Linked DNA regions of Homo sapiens. The protein of the gene in region 3 purifies or fractionates together with the protein of the main gene of each other region. This does not show direct contact. Each region holds a gene or a part of one and is shown on either strand. Other genes may lie near its edges. The genes, in order: STX7, STX12, STX8 and VAMP8.

Evidence for each region.
Region 1: the proteins of STX8 (region 3) and STX7 purify together in Homo sapiens (affinity purification with mass spectrometry; 7 studies listed by BioGRID and IntAct, with this or other methods). This does not show direct contact.
Region 2: the proteins of STX8 (region 3) and STX12 purify together in Homo sapiens (affinity purification with mass spectrometry; 5 studies listed by BioGRID and IntAct, with this or other methods). This does not show direct contact.
Region 4: the proteins of STX8 (region 3) and VAMP8 purify together in Homo sapiens (co-immunoprecipitation; 5 studies listed by BioGRID and IntAct, with this or other methods). This does not show direct contact.

The regions. Positions count from the first base shown.
Region 1 is NC_000006.12:132,503,096-132,510,120, reverse strand, and holds part of STX7 (syntaxin-7), read left to right. Parts: intron 1-6,532; 5' UTR 6,533-6,590; coding exon 6,591-6,675; intron 6,676-7,025. UniProt on the Homo sapiens protein: May be involved in protein trafficking from the plasma membrane to the early endosome (EE) as well as in homotypic fusion of endocytic organelles. Mediates the endocytic trafficking from early endosomes to late endosomes and lysosomes.
Region 2 is NC_000001.11:27,818,219-27,824,968, forward strand, and holds the end of STX12 (syntaxin-12), read left to right. Parts: intron 1-1,431; coding exon 1,432-1,514; intron 1,515-4,012; coding exon 4,013-4,111; 3' UTR 4,112-6,225; downstream 6,226-6,750. UniProt on the Homo sapiens protein: SNARE promoting fusion of transport vesicles with target membranes. Together with SNARE STX6, promotes movement of vesicles from endosomes to the cell membrane, and may therefore function in the endocytic recycling pathway.
Region 3 is NC_000017.11:9,250,799-9,257,823, reverse strand, and holds part of STX8 (syntaxin-8), read left to right. Parts: intron 1-7,025. UniProt on the Homo sapiens protein: Vesicle trafficking protein that functions in the early secretory pathway, possibly by mediating retrograde transport from cis-Golgi membranes to the ER.
Region 4 is NC_000002.12:85,572,870-85,580,585, reverse strand, and holds the start of VAMP8 (vesicle-associated membrane protein 8), read right to left. Parts: upstream 3,001-7,716; 5' UTR 2,940-3,000; coding exon 2,937-2,939; intron 1,578-2,936; coding exon 1,419-1,577; intron 845-1,418; coding exon of another isoform or gene 712-844; intron 1-711. UniProt on the Homo sapiens protein: SNAREs, soluble N-ethylmaleimide-sensitive factor-attachment protein receptors, are essential proteins for fusion of cellular membranes.

The DNA.
Region 1 (7,025 bases), on a different chromosome or scaffold from region 3:
GTGTTAGTTAACCAACCTTTGGCTATCCCCTTCCCGCCATCCTTCTCTGCTTCTAGTAACCACTATAATTTTAACAGCCCATTTAGTTAGTGGCTAGTCTGTTAGTACAGGTCTAGGTAATGAATTATATAATTATTATTCTGAGCAATTAAATAGGAATTCTGAGTGGGCTTTCAAAAGTATTCAACAAGAGTACTTTAGTGCGTAGCAGCTCTGGGCTAGGTAATGGAGACTGATGTGGAAAGCAGACATCTGAATAACTCAGCATCCATTTAGCCTATATGCAGAGATCATAAGCTTTTAATCAATTTGTAGTTACCTATCCTGTCTGTCTATGCTTGTATATATATTTTTTAAAGACAACCATTTGGTTCCTTTCCTTTGTGTGTCTCATTATCAAAAGAGCCAACTGTTGTTGCCTTTTAGATACCACTTATTAGCAGAATAATAGAGAAAAGGAGTAAGCTATTCCTCTGTGTTACCTTGATCAACTCATGTAGTTATCCCAAACATATTCCTTCATCTTAGGAGTGGGAATAGCAAAACTTCATATGGGGCATGCAGAAAAGTGGTAAATTTGGTTTTTCTTTTGTCTTTTTTTATTTTATGTTATGTTATGTTATGTTATGTTATGTTATGTTATGTTATGTTATGTTATGTTATGTTATTTTGAGACGAGTCTCGCTCTGTCGCCGGGCTGGAGTGCAGTGGCGTGATCTTGGCTCACTGCAACCTCCGCCTCCTGGGTTCAAGCGATTGTCCTGCCTCAGCCTCCTGAGTAGCTGGCACTACAGGCGCATGCCACCACACCCAGTTAATTTTTTTAGTAGAGATGAGATTTCACCATGTTGGCCAGGATGGTCTCAATCTCTTGACCTTGTCATCTGCCTGTCTTGGCCTTCCAAAGTTCCGGGATTACAGGCGTGAGCCACCGCGCCCAGCCCAAATTTGGTTTTTCTAACTGAGTTCACCTGCCCTCAATTTTGTTATACAAGGAAGCAGTATGGCTTAGTGTTTAAAAAATGTCGGCTCTGTGGTTATTTTCAAATATTTGCTCCTTTGCTTATAATGATAATGAGGCATAATGATATGCCTCAGTTTCTTCATGTAAAAAAATCACATTAGCAATTATACCCACATGATAGGCTTATAAGAATTAACTGAGAAAATAAATTTAAAAGTCATAAGCACAATGCTTAGGAAATGTAAGTCCTGGATGAGTGTTGGCCATTGTTAACTTTGTTTTATTTTACACATCTTTCTTCTCTATCTTTTGCAAATTGCTTTTCATTCTTCACACATGATTCCTGGCTAGATACAGTGGCTCAAACCTGTAATCCCAGCACTTTGGGAGGCTGAGACTGGAGGATCGCATGAGCCCAGGAGTTCAAGACCAGTCTGGGCAACAAAGTGAGACCCCCATCTCTATAAAAAAATCAAAAAATTAGTGGGATGTGGTGGCAGGTGCCTGTGGACCCAGCTACTCGGGATGCTGAGATGGGAGGATTGCCTGAGCCTGGAAGTCAGGGCTGCAGTGAGTCGTAATCACACCACTGCACTCCAGCCTGGGTGCTCCTGTCTCAAACAACAACAACGCCAAACAAAGAAAAAGTAAAACAAAACTCATAATTCCAGTCAATCTAAGTAGCACCTCTTTGGGTGAATGAAGCCACTTGCCAATTGTCTCACCAGCAGGAACTTTCTCACATTTAGTAGCTTGAGGAAAGGGATGAAGAAAATTGATTGTGTTTGTGACTAAGTGATTGATTTTCCAGAGAGGAAAAAAGGTGGCCTTGAAAGAAAACAGTGAGAAGACTTGGGCTACACTGGTGTGAGTTTTAAGGGTAAGGAAAATGCTGTAGAATACTGTCCTTGACTTGATGGAACTCTTTATGGGAGAGAGAGTAGGCCTCAGGTGTGCTTGCATGGTTTTGAGACAGGTGATGAGTTTCTCTTGGTCTTGTGCTGATGCTGGTCCTGCAGCTGCAAGAACAGATCATAACTTTCCTCTGTGTAGGGTGGAAAAGCATTTGTTCTCTGGATGTGCATTATCTCATTTTGATTCTGGCAGTGGGCCCAAATGCTAAGTGTCTTGCCCAAAGTAGAAATTTCCAGTTGCTACTTCCATGGTGTGCCGCACAGGCAATGGCTGAGTTCTTGTAGCTTCACAGACATGTAGACACGAGAGAAAGCCAAGGGTACGAGCTGGAGACATGGATGTGCGACTCATTCAGGTATAGATTAAAATGGAACCATGTATATGGAGGAGCATCCCCAGAGATTACATGAATAACAAACTGAACATTTTTTCATTCAATGTGTTTGTTTTGGCTTGTAAGCCAGTTTTTCCAGAGATCTACTTGATAGAGGGAAAGGAGAAAGGAAGATGTCATTGAACCAAGAGAAAATTGTCTTTCTCCATACCTTGGAATATTATTTGGCAATAATGAAGGAATATTATTTGGCAATAATGAAGGAATGAAGGACTGATATATGATACAGCACAGATGGACTTTGGAAGCATACTAAGAGAAAGAAGCTAGTCTCGAAGAACACATTGTATGATTCCATTCCTATGAAATGTCCAGAATAGCAAAGCTATAAAGATACAAAGTAGATTAGTAGTCACCTTTGGCCAGTGAGGTTGGGGAGAAATGGAGAGCGATTGCTAATGATTACAAACTTTCCTTTTAGCGTAATAGAAATGTTCTAAAAGTGATGATTGTACAATGTTGTAAATATATTAAAAACCATTGGCTTGTGTACTTCAAGTAGGTGTATTGTATTGCCATATCTCAATAAATTATATCTCAATAAAGCCATTTTATTTATATAAATTTAAGGGGTGCACATGCAGTTTTGTTACATGGTTATATTGCATAGCGTGAAGTCTGGGCTTTTAGTGTAATCATCACCTGAATAATGTACATTGTACGCATTAAGTAATTTCTCATCCCTCACCCTCCCATCCTTTTGAGTCTCCAATGTCTTCTTATTCCACTCTCTGTCCATGTGTACACATTATTTAGGTTCCACTTACAAGTGAGAACATGCAGCATTTGACTTTTTTCTGAGTCATTTCACTTAAGATAATGGCCTCCAGTTCATCTGTGTTGCTGTGAAAGACATAACTTCAGTCTTTTTTAAGGTTGAATAGTATTCCATTGCATTTATATACACTACATTTTCTTTATCCATTCAGGAATGTTAATAGACACTTGATGGGCACTTAGGTTAATTCCAAATCTTTGTTCTTGTGAATATTGCTACAATAGACATATGAGTGCAGATTATCTTTTTGGTATAATGGTTTTTTTTTTCTTTTGGGTAGATACCCAGTAACGAGGTTACTGGATCAAATATTAATTCTATTTTTAGTTCTTTGATGACTTGCCATGCTGTTTTCTGTAGAGGTTGTACTACTTTACAGTCTCACCAACAGTGTGTGTGTTCCTGTTTCTCTGCATTCTTGCCAACATCTGTACTTGTTTGACTTTTTTTCTTTTTTTTCCGTTCAAGATGTGTTTGTGGATGAATTTTTAATAGCCATTCTGACTGTTGTGAGATGATGTCTCATTGTGGTATTAATTTGCATTTATCTGGTGCTTACTGATGTTAAACATTTTTCATGTGCTTCTTGGCCATTTGTATGTCTTCTTTTGAAAAATGTCTATTCATGTGCTTTGCCCCCTTTTTAATGGGGTTATTTGTGGGGTTTTTTGTTGAGTTGTTTGAGTTTCTTGTAAATTCTGGATATTAATCTCGTTGGATGTGTAGTTTGCAGATATTTTTCTCCCATTCTGCAGGTTGTCTGTTCATTCTGTTTATTATTTCTTTTGCTGTGCAAAAGCTTTTTAGTTTAATTAAATCTCATTTTGTCTGTTTTTTGTCTTGTTGCCTGTGCTTTTGAGGTCTTAGTCATAAATTCTTTTCCTAAACCAATGTCCAGAAGAGTTTTCCCTATATTTTCTTTTAGTATTTTAATCGTTTTAGGTATTACTTTTAAGTCTTTAATCCATCTTGAGTCGATTTTTTTTTTTATATGTTGACAGATAAGGGTCCAGTTTCACTCTTCCGCATGGGGCGATCCAATTTTCCCAGCACCATGTATTGAAAAGGGCGTCCTTTCCTCAGTGTATGTTTTTGTCAACTTTGTCAAAAAGATCAATTGACTGTAGATATGTGACTTTACTTCTGACTTCTCTATTCCATTCCATTGTTCTATGTGTCTGTTTTTATATGAATATCATGCTGTTTTAGTTACTATACCCTTTTAGTATAATTTGAGGTCAGGCAATGAGATGCCTCCAGCTTTGTTCTTTTTCTTAAAATTGCTTTGGCTATTCAAAACCTGTGTTTTTTTTTTTTTTTTTTTTTTTTTAAGTGACTTGGAGATGCATTTAAAATTGCATGGTTTCAAGGATGTTCCGGATGGTGTTGGTGTCATTGAATCCCCATGTCTACTCTTGTTCTGTCTGGGCCCAAGTCCAAGGCTACCTGGAAGGAAGTTTATTCCTGTCTCCCCACTGTAGTGGTCCAGCTGTCTGACTTTAGGTTTGAATTTACCCTTTAATGAAATTGCTTTTGGATCCATCTCTAGGATTTGGTGAGACCCAGAGAGCCCAGAATAGATCAGCTGTACCTGAGAGGGAAGTTGGAGAATATCTAAAAGCCACCAGGACTTTCAGCGTGGCCAGGCACATTCAAAGTGCACCAGAGTTCCAGGCATAGAACCAGTACTGTTCTAATGGTCTCAACAGTTCAGCTGTTGTACTTCCTGCCAACACTGTCCCTTAGAGCAAAGACACATACTTCACTGTGGCTTCTTCTCTACCAGAAATCTTCTGTGGCATTAGTTCTATGTGGTAGCAAGCATGGATAGCCTTGGCATCAGAACCCTGGGACTGAATCTCACCTCCACCTGTGGGTGGGTTGGGTTACCATTACTTAATCATAATAAGCCCGCTGTTTGCTCATCATTAAAACAAGAATAATGCCACTTAATTGAAGGAGGTTGTGAAAAAATTAGTCTGTGAAATACTTTTTGTGTCGCAGATGTGCGAGAAATGTTAGGCCATTCCTCTCTTTCCCTTTATGTTGTTTTCCCCTTGTCCCAGCTGTGAATCATCTGATCCAGGGTTGGCCAGGAACCTTCCCTTCCTTTTGTAAATACCATACTGCATGTGGCCTTTCCACGTGCTCTGGGTCTCTCCACCCCAGCCTTCACGTCCTTGCCTTTGTTGTTCTGCATACTGGTCATAACCAAGCATCCAAATCCTATGTTTCTATTTCATAAATTCTTTCCAGACAAGGATGATGGTCATTTTTTCTTTTTGTAGCCCTTCTCATTTTAGCCTAGCACGTGATCTTTTATGGATTTGTGGGGTTTTTTGTTGGTTTGCATTATTAACTTTATCCTTCCTCCTAAATGACAAACTTGATTTGAGCAGATACTGTGTCAGTGTGTTTTGTTTTGTTTGCATCTCCCAGGTGCTTAGTTTAATGCTGGGCATGTACCAGGCTCTTAGTAGAGAGCTAGCTTACAAATTGACCACCAACAATTTTGCAGTATTCCAGTGCATATTCATGGAAAAGATGGGGTGGCGGTAGTTGAAATTCTTTGCTGTGCGCAGTTCTGTATGCAGGGACATTCCTTTTCAACCTTCTTTCCAAACCCTGATTGGAGTGGTGTGGATTGAAGAGGTAGAGAATGTCATCTCACCTGCCTCCTGTGGCAGTATCTCAGTGTCTCTTCTATTCTGAGATGCTGGCTGCTGAAAGGGGAGAGTCATTCGTTCTCCTTCCTCTGTCAGGAAGGTTTGATAAACATTTTATATGACATTTGCTTCGCAGTAGTTGGCTCTGCTATTTCAGATTTAACCTTTTCCATTAAAATTAGAGCCCTATTAATCATACATTCCTGAGCAGGTCCTGTGTGTGTGTTAAATTAGATATTAAGGTTGGTACAAAAGTAATTGCCATTTTTACCATTACTTTTAATGGCAAAAACCACAATTAAAAGTAATGGTAAAAACTGCAATTACTTTTGCACAACCTAATACAGTGAAATTTCTGGGGATAGCCTGAAGTCTGTGTTCCATTTAATAAATATTTAAATGCCTGTTTGTGCTAAGAGTTGTTTTAAATATTGGAGAAAGATAAATAAGCATGTGGGCCCTGCCTTATAATTGTTTGGAGTTTAGTTAAGGAAAAAATATGTAAACAACTAAAATTATATACAGGTAAGGGATTTAATAATTTTTCTTGAAGAGATCAAAGACGTTTTCAAAGGAAATATGCAATTTGAACCTTATTTTAATTGTTTGATGTGTTTAACATGACTCTGTCCTTTGAAGTCCAGTTTTTTTTTTTTTAGTAGACATGAGAGTTTTGCTATTTGATGTGTCACTTTGCCAGATTTCAACTCTATTAGATTAATCAAGTTTGTCCTTGTAACTTCACAGATTGTTAATTTGGAAAATGTAAGCCAGTAACTTAAAAAATATATCTGTGTGACTTTTATATTATTTAGGTGACTGCTTAGAAAACTGCACAGCATCTGATGAAATTAGCGAATAAGAACATCAACCATGTCTTACACTCCAGGAGTTGGTGGTGACCCCGCCCAGTTGGCCCAGAGGATCTCTTCTAACATCCAGAAGATCACACAGTGTTGTGAGTTGAGTTTTAAATGGACTTCACTATTTGTATCCACTCTTAACTGAACTTGGTGGAGGTTCATAAAAGGACAACTCTGCTGATTGAGAGAGGGAGGAGCATTCCTCTAACAACAGGTTTTAAAGGGCTCGAACTCTTTAGAATGAATGCAAGAGAATTATATTTGAGATAACACTTACTGCATTTTTCTATAGGAAGTCAGGGCCAGGCACATAATACATTATTTCATTAAATAAAATAAAGATTTAAAAGGATAATGGATTCTTATATCTGCTTTAAAGCTATCTGGTTCTAGATGAGATGATGAGACCTGATGACTCAGTCTCATAGGTTTGGAACCAGGTAGC
Region 2 (6,750 bases), on a different chromosome or scaffold from region 3:
AAAATACAAAAAATTAGCTACGCCTGGTGGCATGCACCTGTAGTCCCAGCTACTCGGGAGGCTGAGGCAGGAGAATCCCTTGAACCCAGGAGGTGGAGGTTGCAGTGAGCCGAGATTGCGCCACTGTATTCCAGCCTGGGTGACAGAATGAGACTTCGTCTCAATTAAAAAAAAAAAAAAAATGGAGTTAGTCATATCAGCTATAGAGTTAAAGTATGTTTAGGAATGCCGTTTTAAAAATTACCAAATTTATTTTTCGTAGCAATTTTTTTATGTTATCAAATGTAGAAGTTAAATGAGGCCTCATGAATACTCAGTCCCATTGACTTCTTTGTACATCTTTGTTTAGAGAAATAGCTCTCAGCTTCCCAGCTTTTATCTCAACAAACTTGCAAAATTATGGGGTTAGTAACCCTTTTTTTTTTTTTGAGACGGAGTTTTGCTGTTGTTGCCCAGGCTGGAGTGCGATGGTGCGATCTTGGCTCACCACAACCTCCGCCTCCTGGGTTCAAACAATTCTGCTGCCTCAGCCTCCCGAGTAGCTGGGATTACAAGCATGTGCCACCACGCCCGCTAATTTTGTAGTTTTAGTAGAGACGGGGTTTCTCCATGTTGGTCAGGCTGGTCTTGAACTCTCGACCTCAGGTGATCTGCCCGCCTTGGCCTCCCAGGTGGTGGGATTACAGGCGTGAGCCACCACGCCTGGCCAGTAACTCTTTTTTTTAAAGCTTTCTATGTGGAAATAATTTCGAGTTTATTAAAAGTTGCAAAAATAGGCTGGGCATGGTTGCTCACGCTTGTAATCCCAGCACTTTGGGAGGCTGAGGTGGGAGGATCACTTGAAGCCAGGAGTTCAAGACTAGCCTAGGCAACATAGTAAGACCCTGTCTTTACCAAAAAATTAGCCAGGCATAGTAACATGCACCTGTAGTCCTAGCTACTCAGGAGGCTGAGGTGGGAAGATCACTTGAACCCAGGAGTTGGAGGCTACGGTGAACTATTATTGTACCACTGCACTCCAGTCTAGGTGACAGAGTGAGATCCCGTCTCTTAAAAAAAAAAAAAAAAAAAAGGTAGCAAAAATAAAAATATTATAAGGACCTTCTTTATACCCTTTACCCAGATTTACCTCTTGTTAACATTCTACCCCATTTGCTTTATTATGTATTCTTTCTCTCTTTCTCTATGTGTATCTACATAATTTTTTATGAATCATTTATGGGTAAGTTAAATACTTCATAGCCCCCAAAAATTCATTGTTTTTTCTCCAAAGAAAAGGCTAGTCTCTTACCAAGGTAGTAACTCGATTTCATGGCTGGATAGTTTGGATAGTGGTAGTGAAACCAGGACATGTAACATCAGAAATCTGTTCAATTTGCAGTCTTAAAACATCTGAGTGTGTTAAAACATCCTCTGTCCTTCCTTTTGCAGATAGCATAGAAGCCAATGTGGAAAGCTCAGAGGTGCACGTCGAAAGAGCCACTGAACAGTTACAGCGAGCTGCTTACTATCAGGTAAAAGCGGGTACCAAAGAAAGTCACTCTGTGTTGCAGACTTTTTAGGCCATCAGAGTACATTGACATATTGAGAACAGCTACAGCCTTTGCTTAGGTTTAAGCTAAAGGAAAGTAGTCATAATTGCAGTCCCAGTTCCATTTTTATTATTTTCCTTTGCAGATAGATCTACAAAAAATAATCACACCTTGAATAAACTTATCAGAAGGCTAGTAACTGCAAAGCTAACCCTATACACTAATATGATACCTAAATCTGCTATGAGGCTGTTTTATATCCCGAACAGCTGAATGTATTTCAATTAGGATAGTAAGAAGTACAGTTAAAGTAGAAGACTTCATAGATTCTTTATGTTGAGTGTTGCCATAGAGGATGGACATAGAATCAACTTCGACTGCTATTTATATATGAATAAATAAGGATAATCATTCTGGAACTGTTCCTGTAAAGTGAAATCCTTCTACATGTTAGTTGAAACTCTGGTTTTTTTACTTATCCAAGTCTTTATCTCAGTGTACAAATAATGTGAATGAAGTCTTTCTCACTTCCCTTCAATTTGGTGTTGCATGGCTTTTTAGAAATAAATAGCATTTCATGTCCTTCGCCCACTTTTTGATGGGGTTGTTTGTTTTTTTCTTGTAAATTTGTTTGAGTTCATTGTAGATTCTGGATGTTAGCCCTTTGTCAGATGAGCAGGTTGCGAAAATCTTCTCCCATTTTATAGGTTGCCTGTTCACTCTGATGGTAGTTTCTTTTGCTGTGCAGAAGCTCTTTAGTTTAATTAGATCCCATTTGTCAGTTTTGGCTTTTGTTGCCATTGCTTTTGGTGTTTTAGACATGAAGTCCTTGCCCATCCTATGTCCTGAATGGTAATCAGTGTGGCGATTCCTCAGGGATCTAGAACTAGAAATACCATTTGACCCAGCCATCCCATTACTGGGTATATACCCAAAGGACTATAAATCATGCTGCTATAAAGACACATGCACACGTATGTTTATTGCGGCATTATTCACAATAGCAAAGACTTGGAACCAACCCAAATGTCCAACAGTGATAGACTGGATTAAGAAAATGTGGCACATATACACCATGGAATACTATGCAGCCATAAAAAACGATGAGTTCGTGTCCTTTGTAGGGACATGGATGAAATTGGAAATCATCATTCTCAGTAAACTATTGCAAGAACAAAAAACCAAACACTGCATATTCTCACTCATAGGTGGGAATTGAACAATGAGAACACATGGACACAGGAAGGGGAACATCACACTCTGGGGACTGTTGTGGGGTGGGGGGAGGGATAGCATTGGGAGATATACCTAATGCTAGATGACGAGTTAGTGGGTGCAGCACACCAGCATGGCACATGTATACATATGTAACTAACCTGCACATTGTGCACATGTACCCTAAAACTTAACGTATAATTAAAAAAAAAAAAAAGAAGAAATAGCATTTCAGTTGTTTTCCGTGTTCCTGGGATAGCTGTATTTTACCTGGGAGTGCTCGTAAAGAAATTCGTATTTAATAATAGTGTTTCCTTTAAAAACTAGGTGATTAATTTAGTGTCCAACAGTAAAGGAATAATTAAGTAAATTATATACATCCACTCATTGTTGCATATGGGAATTAAGAGATGTTTCTGAAGAGTTTAAACAGAAAAATGTTTATACTAAACATTAAGTGAGGAAAAACATCAAACATCATACAATGTGATCCAGTTATGTCAAATAATATACATAGATAACAAATCAGAAAGAAATACAAAAATGTTGACGGTATTATCTATGGGTGATTTTTTTTTCTCCCTCCGCTTGCTGTATTTTTTTTTTTACAATGAACATAACAGTTTTATACGTATTATAAAATGTTATTAAAATACACATGCACAAATAACTTATTTTATTGCAAATAATGCCTGGCAGCACAGGTATAGTTCCTTTGCAAAATTGTATGTGGGGACTTGGAATTAAAACTTTGAAACCTATACTACTCGGCTGGGTGCGGTGGCCCACGCCTGTAATCCCAGCCCTTTGGGAAGCCGAGGCAGGTAGATCACTTGAGGTCAGGAGTTCGAGATCAGCCTGGCCAACACTGGTGAAACCCCGTCTCTACTAAAAATACAAAAACTAGCTGGGCATAGTGGCACACGCCTGTAATTCCAGCTGCTCAGGAGGCTGAGACATTAGAATCACTTGAACCTGGAAGGTGGAGGTTTCAGTTAGCCAAGATCGCACCACGGCACTCCAGCCTGGGTGACGGAGTGAGACTCTGTCTCAAGAAAAAAAAAAACACCAAACAAACAAAAAACACTTGCACTACTACCTAGTGCTGCTGACTTAAGATTTCTGGGAAAGTCTGTGCATAATTTTGCATGGATAGAGTTAATCTTTAATTACAAGGAGGCAGATTTATGAAGCATTCTTAGAGTCTTACACATACAAATTTTACTTGTTTCATGAGTATCTTGTTTACATATTTCTTTCCTCAGAAAAAATCTCGCAAGAAGATGTGTATCCTGGTGCTTGTCCTGTCAGTGATTATTCTAATCTTGGGACTTATTATCTGGCTAGTTTATAAAACGAAGTGATTGCCTCCGATCGTTCTCCCGCTGAGCTGTTTTCAAGGGCAAGTGCTTGTTGAAGTCTTGCCAGAACAAACTGATCACAAGAAGACAGCATATATCAGAACGTCCTGTAATCATTTAGTTAGAAACTAACTACTAACTAGTCTTTGGAATTCGTGACCTATGGAGACAGTAATTATCAATTTATTGATTCTATTGATTTCTCAAATTAGGAATTAACTTATGTGGATTTTGCTTCCTCTTGTATTCTGATTGCCCTTCATCCCAAGTGTTTACTGAAAATTCCATTCTAGATATTCTTGTTTTGACAAATGACACTACAGTCTCGTAATATTGTCTTTTATGTATATACAAAATTTACCTTTTTACTAGCATCTGAGATAGAGTTACTTTCTGGTACCCAGTATATTGGAGTCTGTCAGAAACTCTATAATAGGCCACCAGTTTTTATTATTTAACATTTTTATTTGAATTTCTAAGAAGCCTATTCTCTATCTATTTTGAAAGATTTTGGCACTATATTTAATTGGAAGGTAAAATATTGTACATGTGATCCAGAGTAAATGAGAAGTCTCTATCTGAGCTGGTCAGTTACTGGAGTACATGTTACTAATCTGGGTTTAAAGTTTACTTCATTATCTGCTAGTGTCATCCACAGCAGTTCATCCTCATCCACACTAAGCCATCCTGTTAGCTTTTAAAGGAAGTTAATTTAATTAACATTAATATACTCTATGGGCTCCCTCTCCCACCTGTCTGCATAGAAAGGCAGAATTAGACATAGCATGCTTTGGAAAAGCAAATAGGAATTGTTGGGAATGATTTAATCTTGTTGTTGTTGTTGTTGTTGTTCACTTGTGGTTCTACATTCCTGGTGAATGATGAATGTTGCTGTCAAAGGGCTGCCCCCTACCTTATAAGGGTTGCTGGGCATTTGAAGGCAGGAAGATTTTTAAAGATAGATTGAGGTTGGTTTAAAATTATTCCTGTAAACCAACAATAAAGCAAAGAAGAGGTTCATTTTTGTAAATAACACTGGTTTCAAATAGTGATGTTAGACTTAACCTAATTTATAAACAAGAGATTAATATCTCCATGCATAGTTTTAGACAAAAAAAGATGTTTCAATAAAATTACTGTCTTGTAATATAAATGTTGTCCACTTCCCTTTTCCACAGGCCTAGAACAGTTAAAGGGAACATAATTTGTTTAGGCTCCCACATAAATGTGAATCTGGCCAACAACTTTGGTTCATCCTTTAGTGAATTAGAGGATTTGGCTACCCTGAGTATATTTATATTCATTTCTTCTGTTCTCCTTCTGTTATTATACTTAATCTTCTAAACTAAACTAATGTGAACAGTAGGGAAGCAAGGGCCCAAATGCATAAGTTTCTTTGCACTGTTGCACTTACTTAATACAAATAAATGTTTTTTAAAGCTTTTGTAGTATGTTTTTATGAGTTAACATCCTAATGTGGTAGGTATTAGGTAATGTGCTGTCATGAGAAAAATTGAGACTTCCAAGAAAACTGGACACCAGGTGAGGGTTGGTTTGGAGACGGAATAGGTGTAGCTGCCTTTCCTTGAAAAACAGTGTGTAGAGATGGCTGAGTGCAATGGCTCACACTTGTAATCCCAACACTTTGGAAGGCTGAGGCGGGAGGATCAGTATATCGGTACGTCTGAGCCCAAGAGTTCAAGATCAGCCTGGGCAGTATAGCAAGACCCCATCTCCATTTTTTTTTTAATGATTTTTTAATTAAAAAAAAGAACAACAGGATAGAGCTGTTGGGGTGGCACAGTGGCCCAAAGAGCAGCTTCAGAGATAATTCCTTGGTTCTATGATCCCTGTTTAACTCCAAATTACAGTCGGACTTGGATACATCATTTGTAACATTGTAGGAAAGAAAAAAGTCTTGGTTGTGAAAAACGATTTGCATTTGGGTAAAATAAAGTGACCATGCTTTTGTTCTGTAATACTGTGTGACCTGTGGTTGTTGTAATGGTGATCATGGAGAGCAAATATGAACTTGGCCTGGATTTTAAATGGCCTAGAATTTGTGGTAGTTGCCAAAGAGGTTCTCCTAGGTGGTCTTAATAAACCTATTCACAGAATTCTCCTTATCTGTGCCTTGATTATCATTGGGAGCATCACAATCTAGGACAGCAGTTTTTAACATGGCTTCACATTAGAAACTAAAAAAATACAGTGCCCACTTTGGCAGCACGTATATAAAATGGGAACAATAGAGAGAAGATTAGCATGGCCCCTGCACCAGGATGACTTGCAAATTCATGAATTCTCTCTCTCTGTCTCTCTCTCTGTGTGTATGTATATATATACTTTTTTTTTTTTTTTTTTTTTTGAGACAGGGTTTCACGCTGTCGCCCAGGCTGGAGTGCCGTGGCACAATCTCAGCTCACTGCAACCTCCACCTCCTGGGTTCAAGCAATTCTCATGCTTCAGCCTCCCAAGTATCTGGGATTACAGGTGCTCACCACAATGCCTGACTCATTTTTTAAAATATATTTTTAGTAGAGATGGGGTTGTACCATGTTAGCCAGGCTGGTCTGGAACTCCTGACCTCAAGTGATCCGCCCACCTCGGCTTCCCAAAGTGCTGCAATTACAGGCCTGAGC
Region 3 (7,025 bases):
TAGAGACGGGGTTTGGCCATGCTGGCCAGGCTGGTCTCAATCTCCTGACCTCAGGTGATCCACTCGCCTTGGCCTCCCAAAGTGCTGGGGTTACAGGCATAAGTCACCACGCCTGGCCAGAATATGTGTTTTGGTTCAAGACAACCAAAATAGTAGTAGGCAGCTAAGGCGGCTTTCCTTGCAACAAAACCAGATAAAAAGACTCCTGGATAAAGCGCCCTTCACCCCTCCCTGCCTCTTGCTTTCCCATCAGCCTACTTGCCACGTTCCCCTGCAGCTACAGGGCAGAAGTGGCCAACACAGAGATCCACACTCTCTCGAAAAGTCAGCCTCCAGATTCTTTCTCCTCCTTCCCCTCCTCCTCCATGTCAGTAAGCACTGAGAGCTGTTACCTACACCCAACTTGTGGCAGGGGCGTTGGCAGCACAAGCTCCGTATTTTGCTCGTTTCCAGTGTTTCACTGGAAAAAAGTATGGACCATGACTCCAGATGACGAGTCTTCAGAAAACACCATTCCTGAGAGACTGTGTTTAATATCCTCTCCCAGTTTGAAAAGGAGTTTGTTTTCTTACATCTTTTTTTAATTGCCATGAGCTGGACTTGTAAATATTGTAAGTGGTTGAGTAATACTCATCTGGTAAACTGACCAAAGGAAATGGACATTTTTTTCCACTCTTGTAACCCTGGCATCCCATGCCTGCCCCTGAAAGGGACTCTTGAGTATTGGAAGGGAAAATCTGCCTCGCCAGGTGCCAGCGGGCCCAGGGCAGGAGCTGAGTGAAGCGCAGAGAAACGATCCCGAAGTCAGGAGCCGCAGCAGGTGTTCTGTGCTAGGGTTGGGGGCAGAGAGCATTCATTGTTTAAGAAGTTGGCAGCCTCCCAGAAGTTCAACTGTCTTTCCTTGTTCTGAAATGTCAAACATTTCCTTAGCTGGGGGAATGGATGAGTAGACCCCCCTGAGGTTTAAGAACTATTCTGAGGCAGAAGAAGGAAGTTCTGCTTTTCACACGTGACCGAGTACGATGTGAGGTCCCATGTCCCTCCGGCAGGGGGGTCGGCTGCGCCCCTGAAACTGGAGCCACCTTCCTACATCAGAAGAGTTGCCAGCTCTTCCCTGCCTCTGCCTTTAGGAACCGTCAGACCCTCTGTGGTTATGTGGGTAGTGGGGGAGTGTGTGTGTCTTTTTAATGGTGCCTTTTAGTGATACTTACTGAAATATTTGTAGATGACCTATGTCTGGAATTTGTTTCAAAATAATATGCAGGAGACAGGGAGCAGGTGAGGGTTTGCATAAAGCCAGACAGGCCATGAATGGATCCTTGCGAAAGCTGACGGATGGGCTCATCACTGTTCTGCGTGCCCTTCGGTCTGCTTTTGTATATGTTTAAAATTTTCCATCATAAAACGTTAAGGAAGGGAAGGAGGGAGGGAGAAAGAGAAGAGGATGAAAAGAGAAGAAACTCTTGATCCCGGTGTTTCAACCCCAGTGAGTCTGAGCCTCTCTCCCCGAGGGACCCCCACACTGTCTCGAATCAGGATGCCTCCACTCAAGCTCCACTGGTGTAGACAAGGGTGAGCGTGTGGGCAGAGGGGTCCTACCCACCTGGATTCCAATTCTAGTTCTTCCTCTTACCCGCCAGAGGGCCTTAGGTAGGAGAGTTCACCTTCCAGAACCCCAGCTTCCTCAGATATAAAACAGAGATGAGGGTTACTTACTGTGCAGAATTAAACCAAGTAATACACCCATAGCACTTAGTGCCAAACCTGGCACGCATGACTGTTTCATGAACGGTGTGGCTCAGCTTTCCCTGGCTTCAAAAAGATCCCTGCTTACTCATTCCGAAACATCCTTCAGAGGAGAGAAACTCCATTCAGAAAGGTGCCAGAGCTGGGATCACATTCGAAGAAAGCCAAACTTCTTAAAGAAAAAGGATTGCCGTGCTAAGGTAGATAAACACCTTCTCTTTGACCCAAAGAATCCAAAAGACAGCAGTTGGCTTTTGCTTATCGCTGTCACCTGCCATCTTAAAACGACCTCCTCAGTTGACCCTCAGTATATACCAGTTTACTTAAGCCTGTTTAAAGTCTCCCCCTGTTTGCTCTGAAAGGGTTTAAAATATAAAAGCCTTATTTGTCATGGCTCCTAAAATCCTCCTTTTCATCTTGGGACAAGAACCCAGTTTATCACATCTTATCAGCTTACTGTCCAAGATGTCCATCACTCAAGTTCATTTTCATTTATTTATTTATTTATTTATTTATTTATATATTTATTTATTTATTTATTTATTTATTTTGAGATGGAGTCTTGCTCTGTTGCCCAGGCTGGAGTGCAGTGGCACAATCTCAGTTCACCACAACCTCCGCCTCCCGAGTTCAAGTGATTCTCCTGCCTCAGCCTCCCAAGTAGCTGGGACTACAAGCGTGCACCACCATGCCCGGTTAATTTTTGTATTTTTAGTAGAGACGTGGTTTCTCTGTGTTGGCCAGGCTGGTCTCAAACTCCTGACCTCAGATGATCCGCCCGCCTTGGCCTCCCAAAGTGCTGGGATTACAGGCGTGAGCCACAGCGCCTGGCCCATTTTCATTTTTTATAGATAATGTGTGCCCTGTCATGCCTTTCCTGGGGCACAGTTTGTCTAATTCACAGCATCTGTGGTAGAAAAATTAGCAGCTTAGCCACCACTGTATTAATAATAGTTCCACTAGACCCACCCACCATGCGCTAAAACTGTACTATGAAAGGTCTCTGCAGCTCTTCTGTGGAAGAGCATTCTTCTATCTTGTCTCTGTAGTATTGTGGGTTGGCATTGGCCACTTTTTGAATTTTCTTACTCATTGGCCTTCTTGCCACATTTTCTCAGCTTCTCCCTCTCTGCTGACCACTCCTTCTATGCCTCTCTTGACTCTTCTTATCCCTTCCAAAAATTCAATACATTTACTCATTTGTTTTATACACACACACACACATGCACACACGTGCGCGTGTGTGTGTGCCTCTTTCCTGTGCCAGGCTCTGTTCTAGGTACGGGGGATATGGCGGTGAACGAGAACCCACAGTCCCTGGTGTAGATGTTCATGTGTCCAGGAGAGACAGACAGTAACTGAGTACCTAAATAATGATTCAAGGCCGGGCGCGGTGGCTCACGCCTGTAATCCCAGCACTTTGGGAGGCCCAGGAGGGCAAATCACTTGAGGTCAGGAGTTCGAGACCAGCCTGGCCAACATGGTGAAACCCTGTCTCTACTAAAAATACAAAAATTAGCCGGGCATAGTGGTGGGCACCTGTAATCCCCGCTACTTGGGAGGCTAAAGCAGGAGAATTGCTTGAACCCAGGAGGCGGAGGCTGCAGTGAGCCAAGATCACGTCACCGCACTCTAGCCTGGGCGCGAGACTCCATCTCAAAAAAAAAAAAGATTTAATAAGAGTTACCATGGAAACTTAGGGGGGCAAAGAGGGCACAGGTAACTGGAGGATGACAAAGAGTTCTTTGGGAAAATGCCACTGAGTTTGAGGGATTAACTAGACCACGAGTGGGGAGCTCCCGGATGGAAAGGATAGCGCGTGTCGAAGCTGGGAGGCAGGGCCCCTACCTTCTGCATCAGCCTGTTGGGGGCACCGGAGACAGCCAGGATGGCTCAAACACAGCGCGCAGAGTGCGGCTGCAGGGTTGCTGGGTCAGACTGTGCAAGACCCCCTTGGCCACTGTAAAGTTTGGATCTCAGTTTCAGCCACTGGAGGATTTAAGCAAGGAGGTGACCTGATCTCCTTTACATTCTGAAAAGCTTGCTGTAGTTCCATCGTGGAGCAGGGACCGGGGAAAGCAGTCCCTCACTGCAGGGAGCCAAATCAGGGATGGCAGTGACTGCGCATGCCTTGAGGCCTCTTCCCTTGGACCTCACGCTCCGGGTGTATGAACCAAAACCAGATGTGTGTTTTCTTCTTCCCAATCAGTTGTTGTTCTTGATTTCTTTGTTCTTGTCACTTGCTCCGCTCTTCTCATAATCACCCTGATTTGACAATTCACGGTCATTCATACTGGCCTCTGCTCCAGGCCATCAGAGCCTCAGTGTGGAGCCTGCCTTGATGCATGGAGCTTCTGGGCCCAAGTGTCCTCCCAACTGTGATCCCACTGGAGCTTCAGGAGCAGTACCTCTTCCTAAAACACCTCTCATCCTCTCCCTCATCTCCTCAGCTGCCAGCCCCTCCCTGTCATCTTAGGGTGAGCCCAGGCCCTGGAGTGCCAGGGATTGCCCCTTCGCCCCATCCCAGCCTGTGCCTGCCTCCTCATTCTCGTTATCTTCTCCTCATGTTGCGCAACATAAACCTTCACCCAGCCAGGACCAAGTCTTCAGCTGATCACCACACAGGCACCAGAATAACCAAGAACTAGTGAAGCTCCTGCCCAGGGGAGCTTTTGGTCAACCTGAAGATGTTTCTGGAGCAGAAATCAGTGAAAAGATTTGTTCTTCTGCTTCTGGCAAGAAGATGGACTAAGATATTCTCACATACACACACATACGCATACACACACACACCCGTATCCCTACCTTCTCACTGCAGATGGACTAAGATATTCACACACACACACACACACACACACACACACACACACCCCTACCCCTGCCTTCTTGCTGCAAGCATCTTGAAATGTGAGGTAAAATAGTGTAACTCCACCCACCCACAAATGTTAATGCAGGGCTGAATTTACAAGGAAGAAAGGAAATCCCTAGATGAAAGAAATGAAGAGCGCATTGAAGGCCAGCGCCTAAGTGGGCGAACTGATGCTGCAGGTGGGTCATCATCATGATGATGGAGAGCAGGAGCTAGCAAGCCTCTGGAAGAGGCCAGGTCGTAAACGGTTTAGGCTGTGCAGACCACAGACGGTGTCACATCTCCTCCTTTTACCTTTTTGACAACCCTCTACAAATATAAAAACCATTGTTAGCTCATGGGTTGCACAAAAACAGAGCACAGCTAGATTTGGCCCATGAACCAAAGTTGGCAGAGCCTTGAGGTAGACTAGGATGAGGTTTTCATCTACAGGAAGACGGGGGAGAAACCTTGGGGCCCCAAGAGAAGCGTTTCTCAAAAGATTGGATCATCAGAGAAAGAGCCCATATCAGAAAAATGCAACCACAGTCACAGGTAGATGACAAAGAAGCTTGCCCTAGTTTTTTTTTTTATTTTCGTTTTCTTTTTTTTTTTTTTTTGAGACAGAGTTTCACTGTTGTTGCACAGGCTGTATTGCAGTGGTGTGATCTCAGCTCACTGCAACCTCCGCCTCCCGTGTTCAAACGATTCTCTTGCCTTAGCCTCCCAAGTAGCTGGGATTACAGGCACCCACCACCACACCTGGCTAATATTTTTTTTTTTTTTGAGACAGAGTCTTGCTCTGTTGCCCAGTTTGGAGTGCAGTGGCGCAATCTCGGCTCACTGCAAGCTCCGCCTCCCGGGTTCACGCCATTCTCCTGCCTCAGCCTCCCAAGTAGGTGGGACTACAGGCGCCTGCCACCACGCCAGGCTAATTTTTTGTACTTTTAGTAGAGATGGGGTTTCACCATGTTAGCCAGGATGGTCTCGATCTCCTGACCTCATGGTCCGCCCGCCTCGGCCTCCCAAAGTGCTGGGATTACAGGCGTGAGCCACTGCGCCCGGCCAATTTTTTAAATATATTTTTAGTAGAGACGGGGTTTCACCATGTTAGCCAGGCTGGTCTCGAACTCCTGACCTCAGATGATCTGCCCGCCTCGGCCTCCCAAAGTGCTGGGATTACAGGCATGAGGCACCGTGCCCGGCCTATTTTTTTAAATATATTTTTAATAGAGATGGGGTTTCACCATGTTGGTCAGGCTGGTCTCGAACTCCTGACCTCAGATGATCCGCCCGCCTTGGCCTCCCAAAGTGCTGGGATTACAGGTGTGAGCCACTGCACCCAGCCACTTGCCATACATTTTTAAGTCTCTTCAATATTCAAAACCATGGTGCAGTGCCCACATGGGTTGAGCTTAAGATTGGTATGGCCTGATCCACATTGAACCCTGAGGATCTGTGGAGGGGATTCGGGAAGCCCGTGAACTTGGACCGGAAAGCAAATTGGACTCTTATGTTCACAAATGTCTAATTGAAATTTAGCATTTTCTTTGCTCACGAACATATGCCACAGACTACCGTGGCGTTCAGCAGTCCTGATGGCTGTGCAACCATGTGACCCTGCACACGTGGCTCTCCCTGTTACTTTCTGAAGCATTTTCATGGACCTCTCCTCCTCTGCTACCCACCTCTCTCGTGGGGCCTTGGCAGCTCAAGGACTCTTCAGTGAGCAAACCTTTCTTGAGTGCTTACTTTGTAGTAGGGCGCCCCTTCTCTGTTATGCTATACCTTGTCGCCGCTGGTACCTGGCACGTGGTAAACACTCGTTAAATACTGGGCAAGCGAACATGGGAGACAGTGAGCTCATTGCACTAAGTGAGGGCTGCATTCTGTGGGGCCCACTTCATCAGCATCAGGTGAAGGAACAGGCAATGGTCAGTGCAGACACACGACCCAGAGGAGGCAGGGCGGGGCTGGAAGGCAGAGTGGCACCCAGCATGGGCTGGCTAGGAGGGCCTGTGCTCTCCAGCCAAAAACGTCAGGAAATGAAACTAGCAAATACTAGCAGAAAAAGTATATATCAAAACAAGCACCTCTATCGGTGAATATTTTTACAAATGGGTGACTTAAGGATCTTGGACTCAAGAACACAAAGTGAAGCCATGTGGAGAATGGAGAAATGGGTTCTAGAATGCTCTCCTAAGCCCTTTGCTTTATCAATGCGTCATCAATGCATAATCTGATTGGGTAGTGAGGGTGGCTGTCGTCAGCAGCTTGCGCCCTCCCTTGTGGTCCAAGGTGTACACAGATGCTAGAGTTAGGGGCCTCACCCCCTCCTGGCTTGAGTGCTGCCTGGGGGGGCCTGGCCACACCCAGGCCCCTGCCTTCTGCACTCAGCATCCTGCAAAGCCAGAGCTGTGTAGCAGCAGCG
Region 4 (7,716 bases), on a different chromosome or scaffold from region 3:
GGATCCTAGGAGGTCTCCACCTAGATATGACTAGGGGTCCCCTTTCTCTTCTTACCCCTGCACACTGAGGGGTCCTCGACACCTGCTTACACCCAAGGGTACAACACTGGCAGCAAAATCTGCCCTTGGGAGGGCAGACCCTGGGACTGAGGGGTGCAGGCTCCAGGTGGGCACATCTCGCAGCTCCAGGACTCCTTGCCCCATCGGGACTGCTGAGGCTGGAGGAGGGACCAGGACAGGATAGAGGGTTGGAAGTAAGGGAACTCCTCCTCCTCCACCCACTCTTCCCCATGCCCAGCAATTCAAGTTATAGACACTAAATTTCCTGGGGCTTGTCCAGACATGGTGGCTCAAGTCTGTAATCCCAGCACTTTGAGAGGCCAAGGCAGGTGGATCACCTGAGGTCAGGAGGTCAAGACCACCCTGGCCAACAAGGCAAAACTTCGTCTCTACTAAAAATACAAAAAATTAGCCAGGTGTGGGGGTGCACACTGTAATCCCAGCTACTCAGGAGGCTGAGGCACGAGAATCGTTTGAACCCAGGAGGTGAAGTTTGCAGTGAGCCAAGATTGCACTCACTCTAACCTGGGCAACAGAGTGAGGCTCTGTCTAAAAAAAAAAAAAAAATTCCCGGGGCCATGCTCCCCAAATTAAGCTACAATTAAGCTACAGAAACAGGCAATGAGCCCCAGGGAGACAAGGGAGCAATACCCAAGAGCCAAGAGTTCACACAGGACTCAGAAAGCCAGAGCCAGCCTCCCCGCTGAACACAGAACTTGAGGCTCCAGACTTTGCTCAACTTTGGAGTTACTTCCTCCCTGAAACAGCTGGCCTCAGCCCCTGGCTGGAGAGAGAGAAGAATGAGGTCTAGCAAGATGTGTGGGAGATATTATTTTAGCCTTCATCTAGCAGGGGACCCTGGGATCAAAGCATTTCACTGCTCTTTCCCCCTTCTTTTTAAAGCCTACTCAGCAAGACGCCAGCAATTTCCCACCCCTTGTCTAACAGCTCCTAGAGAAGGCTAGAGGCCACAGCGGGGGTTTCCTCAGAGCCAATATTTCTGCCCTGGGAAGGTCAGACCCAGATGATTGTCATGGGCAGGCTTCAAAGGGAAAACAAGTTTCCCGGGAGAGAAGCCTGAGAATGCATGGGCTGACTGAGCTTTCGGTCTCAGAACATGCCTCTATGGGCGAGCTGCCACCTCAAGCCCCAGTCATGGGATCCATTCCCTGGGATCCATAACAATCTGTGGAGCAGAGCAGATTCAGAAGTGGAGACTCAGCTCACATCAGCTCCCAAACCAGGTGAAAGGCAACAGAAATGTCAAACTTCTGGCCCTCCTGTCCATTTTGCCCCACCAAAAAGAAATTCCCTCCCTCCCTGTTTTCCTCCAGCCCCCAGTGGGCTCCCTGTCTCACTGTGGCTTCCAGATCCTCTGTCTTGTTGCGGAGATGTTCCAAGTTTTCCCCCCGGGCCAGGATCCGCTCCACATTCTGGGTCATAATATTCTTAACTCCCTCCACCTCACTTTGCAGGTTCCGCACACGATCATTTCCTCCACCTTCACTGGCTTCCTCCTGTGCGGCAACACGGGGTTAATTAGACCAAGTGGTGGGGGAACTGGAGACTTGGGCTCAGAGATCTGGGGAGGGTAAGGCCTCAGGCAGACTTAAGCTTTTTGTAAAATGCTTGAAATGTTTACAAAGAGAATGTTTTCATGTATTACTTCTGTAATCAAAAATAAATGCATTTGTAAGCCCCAGAAGGTGAGATGTGATGCTGAACAGACTAGATCAAACTTCTTTTGGGGTTATTAGGGCCCCTGACAAGGAAAAGCAGCACATCACTAAATCCCTCCCCACTGCTTCCTTGCTCCCTAGAGAGGGCCGTAGAATACAGCAGGGCCAGCATCTCACAATGTTCCCTTCCAGAGCAGAGCCCGCCACTATTTACAATTCCCAGAGCCACCCCCCTTTCCTGATTTCTTGGGACCCTGGTTGAAAGTGTCTGTGCTGGCCAGCAGAACACCCTCACCCAGCCCCACCCATCTGTCCCTCTAAGCCAGCTGCCGGAGCACGGCCCTGGCCGCAATGCCATTGCTGTGACCCAGAACAACAGGCAACCAAGTATCCCAGAAGGCGCCTGGAGCCGTTGAGCCACACACTTCTGCTTTCCCCACCACTGGGCGACACGTGCAGGCACCAAGCAACCGCCTGCTTATGCAGATATTAAATAAAAATACCCGCCTGGGTGTTGGGGGAAATGGAGGACTAGTCCTCCCTGGCTGATGTCTCATCTCGGAGGCTTCATGACAAGGTTTTTGAACAAGGAGAGAAAAATAGTATTTAGCTCCTCCCCGCTTGACCTCCAAAAATAGGCCAGTGGCATGGGTCAGAACTACATTATCACAGAGAACCAACTTCTGGTTCTCTTATAAACCTTTAGTTCTCTTCTCCATGTTAATGGAGAAAGGACACCCAAAGGACTCAGTGGACACACAAATCCTTTGTGTTTCTGTGTGGGGATAAAGTGAAAGGCCGGAGAGGAGAGCTTCTGCCGCTGGGCTGGAATCTGAACTGGGAACTGCCCAGGCGCTGCCTGGTGTGGTGTCACAACACCCGCCTCGGGCTCCCTGGAGGAGGAAGGCACAACAACTCTTTGCCTGGAATTCGGAGCCCCCATCGGCGCTGGCACGGAAGCCCAGCTCCCCACCAGCACAGAGGTCAGGGGAGGGAGGGAGAAGGAGTAGAAACACCTGCCAGGACAGCTCAGAGCTATTTGCAGCCAAGTTGTCAAAGAAGAGAGGCCATAGCAGCACTGGCCCAGCCCTCTAACTTTGCCACCAACTCTCCTCCCCCGACACAGCCAACCCCCAGTCCCAAGCCCCCTCTGGCTCCTCTTTAAACCAGCCCTTTCCTAGTTCCCAGTTGGCTCACCATGTCTCAGAGCAGCCCAGGCCGGTCAGTAAGTGAATTCGCCTAGTCGGCTTCCTCCCAGGGTGGCCCTCAGTTCACTTCCTGCTTGCTCCAACTTTCAGCCTGCCCCCGCCCACCTCGCATCTCGAGTCGCTCCAGCCACACCTAACTCAGGTTTCCCCAGGTAGGCGGGCATTCTTCACTGTCCTCCCAGTGGCTTCCCAAACAAGAGCTTAAACTTAAAGTAATAGGGTTCTCAGAAGCCAAAGGTCTTCTAACTTGTCAGGAATTAGAAAAGAAAGATCAAGCAGCCCTCCGAGGTTTCCAGAGGCTGGACCTCCTGATCTAGAAAGGGCAGCCTTTTTTTTTTTTTTTTTTTTTTTAAATAGAGACGAGTTCTCACCATGTTGCCCAGGCTGGTCTCAAACTCCTGGGCTCAGGCGATCCTCCCACCTCAACCTCCCAAAGTCCTAGGAGCCATGATGCCCCACCAGCCATCTCCTTGTAATGTCTTGAATATCTGACTCCAGTTTCTAGAGACTGAGATCAACCATGCCAGGCCTAGCTCACAGGGAAACAAAATGCAGTTATGAAAATGTATTGCTGGATAACACTTGTTCCCAGGTCCCTGGGTGGCAGAAAGCACTAAAATCCCTGAAGTCTGGAATACTGTGATCCTGGGCTCTGATTCAGAAAGTTCTGGGTTACTAGTTACAGGCCCCTCAGGGAAACTTTTCACCTCTGTGGAGTTTGCAGGTGCTGATGCTTAGCTCAGATGGTGCTGGTAAGAAGCAAAAAGAGGCCGGGCGTGGTGGCTCACGCCTGTAATCCCAGCACTTTGGGAGGCCGAGGCGGGCAGATCACAAGGTCAGGAGTTAAAGACCAGCCTGGCCAACATGGCGAAACCCTGTCTCTACTAAAAATACAAAATAATAAACAGGCGTGGTGGCAGTTGCCTATAATCCCAGCTACTCAGGAGGCTGAGGCAGGAGAATTGCTTGAACCCGGGAGACAGAGATTGCAGTGAGCTGAGATCATGCCATTGCACTCCAGCCTGGGTGACAAGAGCAAGACTCTGCCTCAAAAAAAAAAAAAAAAAAAGAAGCAAAAAGATAGCATGTGCAGTGCAATGCCACTAGCACAGTGTCTATAATGATGGCTCACCAAACCTCTCCTTCCCTTCCAGAGTTCAGCAATTCTGCATTTCCCTTTAGGGGCTACCGCAGAGGTAATTGATCCCAGTCAGTGATCAGAGGACTGCCCCAGTGAACCAGAGCAGGGGGCCCAAGGCAAAGGATTTTTCCACTAACCTGGCTCCAGGCCAGAGAAAATCTGATCTTCCTTGACAGTGTTTATCAAGACAGAAGAACAATAACAGGGACATTCAGAAGGGAACGAACATTCTTGACCCATTCCAGAAGAAATCAGTTCCAAGGAGGAAATGTCAGCTTCTCCAACAAACACTTTTTTTGTTTGTTTATTTTGTTTTGTTTTCTTGAGATAGTCTCCCTCTGTCACCCAGGCTAGAGTCCAGTGGCATGATCGTAGCACCCTGCAGCCTTGAACTCCTGGGCTACAGCGATCGTCCTGCCTCAGCCTCCCCAGTAACTGAAACTACAGGTGCGAACCGCCATGTCTGGCTAATTTATTTTAAAACTTTTTGTAGAGATGGGGGTCTTACCATGTTGCCCAGGCTGGTCTCAAACTCCTGTTCTCAAGTAATCCTCCCTCCTCAGCTTCCCAAAGTGTTGGGATCATAGGTGTGAGCCACCACATCCAGACACAAATAATTTTTTTTTTTTTTGAGATGTTTCTCTCTTGTTGCCCAGGTTGGAGTGCAATGGCGCTATCTCGGCTCACTGCAGCCTCTGCCTCCCAGGTTCAAGCGATTTTCCTGCTTCAGCCTCCCTAGTAGCTGGGACTACAGGTGCATGCCACCAGGCACGGCTAATTTTTTTGTATTTTTAGTAGAGACAGGGTCTTACCATGTTAGTCAGGGTGGTCTCGAACTCCTGACCTCTCAGGTGATCCGCCCGCCTTGGCCTCCCAAAGTGCTGGGATTACAGGCGTGAGCCACCGCGCCCGGCCACAAATGCCTTTTTAAAAGCTTTAAACAAACTTCGGACCCCTGTAGCTTTTTTTTTTTTTTTTTAGAGGCAGGGTCCCACTCTGTCATCCAGGCTAGAGTACAGTGCAGTGTGTTCAAGCTCACTGCAGCCTTGAACTCCTGGGCTCAAGCAATCTTCTCACCTCATCCTCCCCAGTTAGCTGGGACTACAGGCAAGGGCCACCATGTCCAGTTAATTTTTTTTTTTTTTTGGAGACAGTGTCTTGCTGTGTTGTCCAAACTGGTCTCAAACTCCAAACCTCAAGTGATTCTCCCACCTCAGCCTCCCAAAGTGCTGGGATTATAGGCATAACCCACCATGCTCAGCAAATATTATATATAAGCCTGGGCAACAACATATCAAGACACTGTCTCTATAAAAAAATAAAACTGTTGGACACAGTGGCTCATGCCTGTAATCCCAGCCCTTTGGGAGGCCGAGGCAGTGGATCACCTGAGGTCAGAAGTTTGACACCAGCCTGATCAACATGTCGAAACCCCATCTCTACTAAAAATACAAAAACTAGCTGGGCATGGTGGTGGGCACCTGTATTCCCAACTACTCGGAAGGCTGAGGCAGGAGAGTCGCTTGAACCTTGGAGGCGGAGGTTGCAGTAAGCCGAGATCACACCGTTGCAATTCAGCCTGGGCGACAGAGTGAGACTCTGTCTCAAGTAATAATAATAATAATAATAATAATAAAATAAAAATAAAGTAAAATTAAAAAAATAAAATTGGCTGGGCACCGTGGCTCACGCCTGTAATCCCAGCACTTTGAGAGGCCGAGATGGGCAGATCACCTGAGGTCGGGAGTTCGAGACCAGCTCTTGACCAACATGGAGAAAACCCATCTTTACTAAAAATACAAAATTAGCCAGGCATGGTGGCGCATGCCTGTAATCCTAGCTACTCGGGAGGCTGAGGCAGGAGAATTGCTTGAACCCGGGAGGTGGAGGCTGCAGTGAGCCGATATCACACCATTGCACTCCAGCCTGGGCAACAAGAGTGAGACTCTATCTCAAAAAAAAAAACCAATAATAAATAAATAATAAAATAAAATTAGCCAGGCATAGTGGTGCATGTCCATAGTCCTAGCTGCTTGGAGAGCTAGCACAGAAGGATCACTTGAGCCCAGGGGTGTGAGACATCAGTGAGCTATGATAGTGCCACTGCACTCCAGCCTGGGAGACAGAGATAGACCCTGTCACTAATAATGATAATAATAATAATTTTATATATTGATTATGTGGCGAAATAATGTTTGGATATATTGAGTTAAATAAAAGATTAATAAAATAAATAAAATTAATTTCAGCCGGGGATGGTGGCTCACACCTATAATCCCAGCACTTTGAGAGGCTGAGGCAGGCCGATCATGAGGTCAGGAGATTGAGACCAGCCTGGCCAACATGGTGAAACTCCGTCTCTACTAAAAATACAAAAATTAGCTGGACGTGGTGGCGCTTGCCTGTAATCCCAGCTACTCGGGAGGCTGAGGCAAGAGAATCACTTGAACCTGGGAAGCAGAGGTTGCAGTGAGCCGTGATGGCGCCACTGCACTCCAGCCTGAGTAACAGAGTGAGACTGTCTCCAAAAAAAAAAAATAATAATAATAATAATTTCACCTGTTTCTTTATTTTTTAAAATTCATTTTTATTTATTTATTTATTTTTTTTGAGACAGGGTCTCACTGTCACCCAGGCTGGAGTACAGTGTCACAATCATAGTTCATTGTAACCTCAAATTCCTGGTTTCAAGTGATCCTCCTGCCTCAGCCTCCTAAAGTGTTAGCATTACAGGCATGAGCTACTGCATCCAGCCCTGTTTCTCTTACTTTTAAAATTTGGCCAGTAGAAAAATGTAAATTATGTGATTAGTGAAAAATGTTAAAATACATATTGTAATGTGGCTTATCACTGGGCATGGTGGCTGATCCATACCTTAATATTTACATGACCTGGGACAAACTTGCATAACAACTCTAAGCCTCAGTTACCTCATCATCTGTGCTTAGCACTCAAAAAATTCAGTAGACCAGGTGCAGTGGCTCACACCTGTAATCCCAGCACTTTGGGAGGCTGAGGTGAGAGGATTGCTTGAGCCTGGGATTTCGAGACTAGCCTGAGCAACATAGTGAGACCCTGTCTTTTTCTTTTTTCTTTTTCTGTTTTTTGAGAAGGAGTTTTGCTCTTGTTGCCCAGGCTGGAGTGTAGTGGCGCAATCTCGGCTCACTGCAACCTCTGCCTCCTGGGTTCAAGTGATTCTCCTGCCTCAGCCTCCCAAGTAGCTGGGAATACAGGCACATGCGCCACCATGCTCAGCTAATTTTTGTATTTTTAGTAGAGACGAGGTTTCACTATGTTGGGCAGGCTGGTCTCGAACTCCTGACCTCAAGTGATCTGCCCACCTCGGCCTCCCAAATCACTGGGATTACAGGTGTAAGCCACCGCCCCAGCCTCAAACATAATATATATATATATATTCAGTGAAGTGACTTTGTAAGGAAAAACTGCTGAACTGCTTGGTTATAGGAGTTGTAGCCCAAGAAGCAATGGGCCAAATCTTGGTTTATTCTTGGTTGTGCCTCTCATATACACCTCCTCCTTTCCATGCCAGCCCCTTCCTCCTAGTTAATGCCAGCCCCTTCCTCCTAGTTAATGCCAGCATGATCTCTTCCCTGAACAATTCCAATCC